Regions from separate parts of the Homo sapiens genome. Here all the other regions are linked to region 1. The links come from fine-mapping of genetic effects on gene expression. A gene starts in region 1. Each other region holds a variant in brackets. All regions are shown on one strand. Distances are between the middles of the regions. Region 1 holds the start of LIMA1 (LIM domain and actin binding 1). Region 2 has its middle 6.0 kb from the start of CERS5. Region 3 overlaps CERS5 (ceramide synthase 5).

Region 1 (2,850 bases):
TGCCTCAGCCTCCCGAGTAGCTGGGATTACAGGCACTTACCACCACGTCCGGCTAATTTTTGTATTTTTAGTGGAGACGGTGCTTCGCCATGTTGGCTAGGCTGGTCTCGAACTCCTAACCTCAGGGGATCCGCCTGCCTCAGCCTCCCAAAGTGCTGGGATTACAGGTGTGAGCCACCGCGCCCGGCCCCTTGTACCTGATTTTGAATGGAGTTTCAACCAATCACAAACAGACAACCAGCCAAGTGGTTATATAATTAGGGACCTCCCATGTGACCATACCCAAATAAGGCAAACGCTTAGCTGTAGCCAATCAAATTTCTTTACTTTCGTGTTCAGCCTATAAAGTTTGATGCCTGGGCAGCTAGAGCAGGGGTGTCTGAGCCTCTTTTGGTTCTGACTGTTGTCCGATTCAAAATCTAAGTTTGTTTTGTCTGAAATTTTTATTTCTACAATACCTATCCAGAAATCAGTCTAGGCTGGATATTTGAAGGAAGAAGGGAATAACTGGCTGGCATATTCATCACCTGTTGGAAATCTCTCTTCTCACACATTTTCATTAACTTCTTGAGGAAGTGTAATTACAAGCGTTTTCCCACGAGCAGCCCCTACTAATAACGCATCAAGCTGCATGAATTCCGAAAAGCTTCAGAAAACTTGTGGTCTGAAACCCTACTATGCTTGAGGTACAGGAAAGAAGGATACTATCAAAAGGCATCATGCAGCTGGCACGGAACTGGGACAAGAATTTGGGGGCAGGATGGCCAAGTGCTAGGCCAATTGACGGTCTCCAAACCATTAGCACAGCTCCTATTCTGAATGGAGGAGTAAAAACAGCTGTTGGAGAACTTGGACGTCATCTGCCCTTGTCAAACCGTTTTCAGGATTAATGTACTTAATTCAGCTTTTTCCACTACACCACACAGCCTCCTGTAAAACACCCTCCCTGCACACAACTTACCCCCAAAGCACCAGGAACCTAGCTGGCTAGAGTTGAGCTTAGGAAAAACCTGAGTGGCTCCAGAGTCAAACTGCGATAACGTTGAGTCAGAGGAGTTAAGGACAAAGTAGAGCTGCACAGAGGCCCACGTCGTGCAAGTGCGTGTCTCCTTCAGAGAAAAGCGTGCCGAGGTAGACTAGGCCCCGGGCAGCAAAAACCCTGTCCCGTCGCCAGCGCCCCGCACCGCCAGAGCGACTGGAGCAGACGCGAGCGCTGGGCACGTAGCCGGTGGCGCGCACGCTCAGCCCGAGGCCGCACGGGAGGCTGTCTGGCGTGCGCGCCCCCGCGGCGGTGGGCGGGGTCCGGGGCGGGGCCGCAGGAGCAGTAGGTGTTAGCAGCTTGGTCGCGACAGGTGCGCTAGGTAGAGCGCCGGGACCTGTGACAGGGCTGGTAGCAGCGCAGAGGAAAGGCGGCTTTTAGCCAGGTAAGGGCCTTCTCTCTCCACAACCGGAGAGTGCGGGAAGACCCCGGCTTCTCTCCACACCCTCTTTCTCCTTCGACTTTTGGGGCGGGGGGAGTGCAAGGAGTGTGAGTCCCTCCCCCTCGAGATAAGGGGTCGAGGGACGCTGATCCTCCGTTCTTTCCTCACTTCTGGGGCCTGCGCTGGGTGGGGAGTGCTTATGTCGGGCTGAGCCTTTGCTGCCCAAGGGCGGGAGCTGCAAATACCCCGTCCTCTCCCACCGAGAACACTGCATTCTAACTGTATACTTTCTGGTGTGGTGGAGGAAGGTGACAATTCATTAAAACTCCAAATACCCTCCTTCCAGGGAAATACTGTAATATTCAACTGTTCTTTTTCCTTCATTTTCAGCCATTCCCTCTCTTTTCGATTTTTTCTCCCTTCCATTACGCCAGCTGAACTCTGTTTAAGACACTTACACCCTTTTGAGGAATGTTGAGAATATAGCAGTCCTTGCAGCCGATGTGTCATCCCCGAATCGCTATCGTGTATATATCGCTGGCACTTGCCCCCGACATATGTTGGTGTTAATGTAAGGTAATTGTACACCCCTGGCTACACATACTAAAGCTTGAAGTTGTAGCTGCTAGGAACGAACCATCTGGCACCCTTCCTAGCCTCCTTACTGATGCTTGCAAGAACGGTTTAGCTGATCCTGGTGAGAGATATTTGAACTACTATTGTCTTGCACCTAATTCCAGCTTTCAAAAGTCTGCCTTGGACGGGCGCAGTGGCTCACGCCTATAATCCCAACACTTTGGGAAACTGAGGCGGGAGGATCGCTTGAGCCCAGGTGTTTGAGACCAGCCAAGGCAACTTAGCGAGACCCTTGTCTCTACAAAAAAATAAATAAATAAATAAAAATAAAAGATAAGTCTGCCTAATCCAGATCTGCCTAATCCAGATGGTTCAATTGACTTGACTTTTCAGGTTAGTCAAAGGTAATTAGGGAGTTATCAGTTTTTAAGGCAATGCCCATTTTGGGGAGAGGTTTTCTTTTGCATTAAGTATTCTTTCTTTTGCTCTTGATTTAAATGGTTTAACACAGTACCTTTTATCTGCTTGGTTACCAATACTATTCACAAATGCTAAATATTTCAGGAGCCATGAAATAACACCAATCCTTTCTTCTGAGGTATGATGTAGACACAAAAGAACATGACCCCTAACAACATGTTCTAAGTTCCTGTAGAGGTATAACCTGGGTGCAGGATGATCACGTTTTAGATAGATCTTCAAAAAATTATAGAGTTGGCGTGAAAGAAGGCAAAAAAAAGTGTGTGTTCATATATGTTTTCTTGTTTTGCATTGATAGAACAACATATAATGTACTAGGTAATTAGTTTAGGAACTTATTTCATTCTTTGGACAAAATATTGAGTGCCTTTCA
Region 2 (2,850 bases), 110 kb after region 1:
CTACCTGGGAGGCTGAGGCAGGAGAATGGCGTGAACCCGGGAGGCGGAGCTTGCAGTGAGACAAGATCGCGCCACCGCACTCCAGCCTGGGCGACAGAGCTAGACTTCGTCTCAAAAAAAAAAATCACTGTTCACACCAAGTGGGCAGATGCATTTTTGATTGATTGATATCCTTGCCTGTAGAGGCAACTGTTCCAATTGTTCAGGCTTTCTTTTTAATTGGTAGGGTTGAAATGTGGATTTCCTTGGAGAGTTAAGGCATGCTTTTTGAGTCATCTGTTACATTTTCCAGGATCCCTGTGTTTTCTAGAGTCTTGCCTGGTTTTCTGAGTGGTTGGTAGGATACTACTTTCTGCTCTTGCCCCCACTGAGTCATTTAAAGATCCATGTTCAGACCGGGCGCAGTGGCTCATGCCTGTAATCCCAGCACTTTGGGAGGCCGAGGCGGGCGGATCACCTGAGGTCAGGAGTTGGAGACCAGCCTGGCCAACATGGAGAAAACCCATCTCTACTAAAAATACAAAATTAGCCGGGCGTGGTGGCACATGCCTGTAATCCAAGCTACTCAGGAGGGTGAGGCAGGAGAATCGCTTGAACCCGGGAGGCAGAGGTTGCAGTGAGCGGACATCACACCATAGCACTCCAGCCTGCGCAACAACGACGAAACTCCGTCTCAAAAAAATAAAAAGCCGGGTGTGGTGGCTCATGCCTGTAATTCCAGCACTTTGGGAGGCAGAGGCGGGAGGATAACCTGAGGTTGGGAGTTCCAGACCAGCGTGACCAACATGGAGAAACCGCGTCTCTACTAAAAATACAAAATTAGCCGGGCATGGTGGCAGGTGCCTGTAATCCCAGGTACTAGAGAGGCTGAGGCAGGAGAATCGCTTGAACCTGGAAGGCAAAGGTTGCGGTGAGCCAAGATCATGCCATTGCACTCCAGCCTGGGCAACAAGAGCAAAACTCCATCTCAAAAAAAAAAAAAAAAAAATCCATATTCACGTTAATCCAAAAGCTCCCACTGATATAAAATATCCAATCCTGGCTTGAACTTCTGTGACTTGCGTTTTACTATAATCCATCCACATGGTACTCACATTATGCACTGACTTTATACAAAAAAGTTTAAGTACCTGTGGATATCAGTTGAGTGGGCCACCCCTTGGGGACTGAGATTACCCTCAGAAGAATTCTTTTTGACTGGGTGCGGTGGCTCACACCTGTAATCCCAGCACTTTGGGAGGCTGAGGTAGGTGGATCACAAGCTCAGGAGTTCAAGGCCAGCCTGGTCAGCATGGTGAAACCCCATCTCTACTAAAAATACAAAAATTAGCTGGGCATGGTGGTACGTGCCTATAGTCCCAGCTACTCAGGAGGCTGAGGCAGGAGAATCACTTGAACCCAGGATGTGGAGGCTGCAGTGAGCCGAGATTGCACCACTGCACTCCAGCCTAGGCAACAGAGTGAGACTCCATCTAAAAAAAAAAACAAAAAAACTCTTTTCTATGCCTTTCAAGGGCTAAGATATAGACGTATCATGGGTACACAGAGTAGGAACAAGGAATAGCTCCAGAGTCAATATAAAGAAAGGATGTCCTAGCCAAAAGAATGACCAGATAACAC[T/G]GAACATTCTTAGAAAACAAAAGCAGCCAAACAGAAAAAGCATTAATCATTTGTTCTTTTAGCTCTCTAAATGAAGGCTACCTTGTTTGGACCTGGTATATCACTGGTGACTATAGGGTGATGACAGCTTTTCTGTTGGTAAAGCAGAAAAAGGGGCCAGCTTGGGACTTATGATGGTTAAGGAGGCTCTGCTCATGACTGCTACAAGGCCAGCTTGGTTCCAGTGACTTGCTGGATCACTCTTGGGCAAGGTGAAAGTAAATTTGCTTTGCATTACATATTTCATTAGCAATGTTTCCCAACAGCCAAGAGACTGGGAATTGGTACATGCTCATTTTTCTGGGGATAGAATCATGAACAGGGGCCAGGCACAGTAGCTCATGCCTGTAATCCCAGCACTTTGGGAGGCCAAGGTGGGCAGATCACCTGAGGTCAGGAGTTGGAGACCAGCCTGGCCAACACGGCGAAACCCCGTCTCTACTAAAAATACAAAAATTAGCCAGATGTAGTGGCGTGCACCTGTAATCCCAGCTACTTGGGAGGCTGAGGCAGGAGAATTGCTTGAACCCGGGAGGCAGAGGTTGCAGTGAGCTGAGATGGCGCCACTGCACTCCAGCCTGGGTGACAGAGCAAGACTCCATCTCAAAAAAAAAAAAAAAAAAAAATCATGAATAGGGTCTCAGACCAAGATCATTGTGTACTGGTGGTTCCTGTATGCTAAGTTAGTATGTCCTCTGTTCCTTGAGATGCTGATTGAAAATCCCATGGGGCTGGGTTTATTACTTCCTTTTAAAATATATCTTTTCTTTTTTTTTTTTTTTTTTTTTTTGAGATGGAGTCTCCATTTGTTGCCCAGGCTGGAGTGCAGTGGCACAATCGGGTCACTGCAACCTCCGTCTCCCGGGTTCAAGCGATTCTCCTGCCTTAGCCTCCCGAGTAGCTGGAACTACAGGCACCTGCCACCATGCCCAGCTAATTTTTATATTTTTGTACAGGTGGATTTTTGCCATGTTGACCAGGCTGGTCTTGAACTCCTGACCTCAGGTGATCCGCCTGCCTCAGCCTCCCAAAGTGCTGGGATTACAGGCGCGAGCCACCCTGCCCAGCCCTTTAAAACTGTATCTTAATATAGTGTAGTTACCATGAAGCTATTCCTGGGTTTGGATGGAAGTGGCTTCAGGCAGTGGTTCACAGAACAGCAGCAGTGGCATCACCTATGAGTTTGTTAGA
Region 3 (2,500 bases), 140 kb after region 1:
TCTGACAAATTATTTTAAAATGTGGATTGATCCTGGAGAAGACAGAAAGCCACACTAAAAGTATAATTTGTCAGTATCATCTAGCACAGCAGTTTTCAAACTATGATCTCAGGACTCCTTTACAATCTTAAAAAATTTTCAAGGATCCCAAAGAGTTTTTGTTTATGTGGATAGTACCTATCAATGTCTACTGTTTTAGAAAAAAAATGGGGAAAATGTACATGTTTTCTACATGTATTTATACATGTATAAAATGTCTACACGCACACACACACACACACACACACATATATATATATATATATATTTTTTTTTTTTTTTTTTTTTTTTGAGATGGAGTCTCGCTCCGTCACCCCAACTGGAGTGCAGTAGCGCAATCTTGGCTCACTGCAACCTTCGCTTCCCGGGTTCAAGCAATTCTCCTGCCTTAGCCACCTGAGTAGTTGGGAATACAGGTGTGCACGACCATGCCCGGCTAATTTTTTGTTGTTGTATTTTTAGTAGAAGATGGCATTTCGCCATGTTGGCCAGGCTGGTTTCAAACTCCTGACCTCAAGTGATCAGCCTGCCTCAACCTCCCAAAGTGCCGGTATTACAAGTCTGAGTCACCACGCCCGGCCTATTTATTTATTTATTATTGAGACAGAGTCTGCTTTGTCGCCCAGACTGGAGTGCAGTGGTGAGATCTCAGCTCACTGCAACCTCTGTCTCCCGAGTTCAAGAGATCCTCTCACCTCAGCCTCCTGAGCAGCTGGGACTACAGGTATGTGCCGCCATGCCTGGCTAATTTTTGTATTTTTTGGTAGAGATGGGGTTTCACCATGTTGGCCAGCCTGGTCTTGAACTCCTGAGCTCAAGCAGTCTGCCCACCTCAGACTCCCGAAGTGCTGGGATTACAGGCATGAGCCACCGCATACAGCCTATTTATTTTTGAGACAGGATCTGGCTCTATCACACAGGCTGAAGTGCAGTGGCGCAATCACAGCCCACTGCAGCCTCGACCTCCCAGGCTCAAGTGATCCTCCCACCTCAACCTCCCAAGTTGCTGGGACCACAGGCATGAGCTACCACACCTGTCTAACTTTTGTGTTTTGGGGAGAGACAGGGTTTCACCACGTTTCCCAGGCTGGTCTCAAACTCCTGGGCTCAAGTGATCCACCTGTCTCAGTCTCCCAAAGTGCTAGGATAACAGGCATTAGCCACCGTGCCCAGCCCATATTTATTCATTTAAAAATAGCAATGGCCTGGGAAACATGGTGAAACCCTGTCTCTACAAAAAAAAAA[A/T]TTTTTTAATTAGCTGGGCATGGCCAACACCTGTAGTCCCAGCTACTTGAGAGGCTGAGGTGGGAGGATCACTTGAGCTTAGGAAGTCAAGGCTGCAGTGAGCAGTGATCACACCACTGCACTCCAGCCTGGGTGGCAGAGTGAGACCCTGTCTCAATATAAATAAATAACAATGAACTCATTACGTTTTATGAAAAATAACTATTTTCCAAAACAAAAAACTGTGAGAAGAGTAGCATTTTAACATTTTTGAAAATATCTGGCAGCTGTAGTCTCATGTCAGCGTCTGCATTCAGTCTGTTGTTATATGTCATGTAACTTATGGAAAGTTCCACTGTACTCTCATGAGAGAGAATAGATTTTTATGAAATTATAGAATTATTCTGAAGATAGTTTTGACCTTGTAGACCTACTGAAAGGGTCTCTGGATCCCCCAGGGGTCTCTAAACCACACTTTGAGAAATGCTGATGTAGCAGAAATGATGAATGCCAGGCTCTGGAAATTGACCACCCTAGGTACCTATTTTTTTTTTTTTTTTTTTTGGAGATGGAGTCTCGCTCTGTTACCCAGGCCAGAGAGAGTGCAATGGCGTGATCTCAGCTCATTGTAATTTCCGCCTCCTGGGTAAAAGCAATTCTCCTGCTTCAGCCTCCTGAGTAGCTGGGGTTACAGGCACACACCACCACGCCTGTCTAACTTTTTGTATTTTTAGTAGAGATGGGGTTTCACCATGTTGGATAGGCTGGTCTCGAACTCCTGACCTCGTGATCCGCCCGCCTCAGCCTCCCAAAGTGCTGGGATTACAGGCATGAGCCACCGCGCCTGGCCTAGATACCTGTTTTATAAGTTATACCAAATACCAACCTTTTGTATGATGTAGAATTAATACTTTCTCAAAAGCTATAATTTCAAATAATTTCACTTTCTTCAGTAAGGTAATTCATTAACTGTGTATAACTAAATCTATATATTTAATTTTTATCACAAATTAGAAAAGATTATTTTCCAATCACATCTGGAAAATATAATAAAGCTTCATTCTGTAGCACAAAATAAACAATCAACAAGTATTTGTCAAATGTTCTTTTTTTTTTTTTTTTTTTGAGACGGAGTCTCACTTTGTCGCCCAGGCTGGAGTGCAGTGGCGCGATCTCGGCTCACTGCAAGCTCCGCCTCCCGGGTTCATGCCATTCTCCCGCCTCAGTCTCCCGAGTA

Evidence for each region. PIP is the estimated chance that this variant, and not a neighbour inherited with it, causes the effect.
Region 2: its variant is fine-mapped to the expression of LIMA1 in whole blood (TOPMed, PIP 0.92).
Region 3: its variant is fine-mapped to the expression of LIMA1 in blood mononuclear cells (TOPMed, PIP 0.97).

What each region holds. Positions count from the first base shown.
Region 1 is chr12:50,281,994-50,284,843 of GRCh38, reverse strand. It overlaps LIMA1 (LIM domain and actin binding 1), which reads left to right and starts at 1,324. Exons shown (of 11, transcript NM_016357.5): 1 at 1,324-1,424. LOC107984505 (a long non-coding RNA gene) reads right to left here and starts at 1,223. Exons shown (of 2, transcript XR_001749144.2): 1 at 962-1,223. RefSeq lists a silencer at 1,104-1,413.
Region 2 is chr12:50,171,988-50,174,837 of GRCh38, reverse strand. No RefSeq gene overlaps it. Among named protein-coding and RNA genes, the nearest start is that of CERS5, 6.0 kb to the right of the region's middle. The variant T/G (reference allele first, on the strand shown) is at 1,621.
Region 3 is chr12:50,146,735-50,149,234 of GRCh38, reverse strand. The region is part of intron 1 of CERS5 (ceramide synthase 5); the gene reads left to right. All of the region lies in intron 1 of LOC124902931 (a long non-coding RNA gene), which reads right to left. Among named protein-coding and RNA genes, the nearest start is that of CERS5, 19 kb to the left of the region's middle. The variant A/T (reference allele first, on the strand shown) is at 1,285.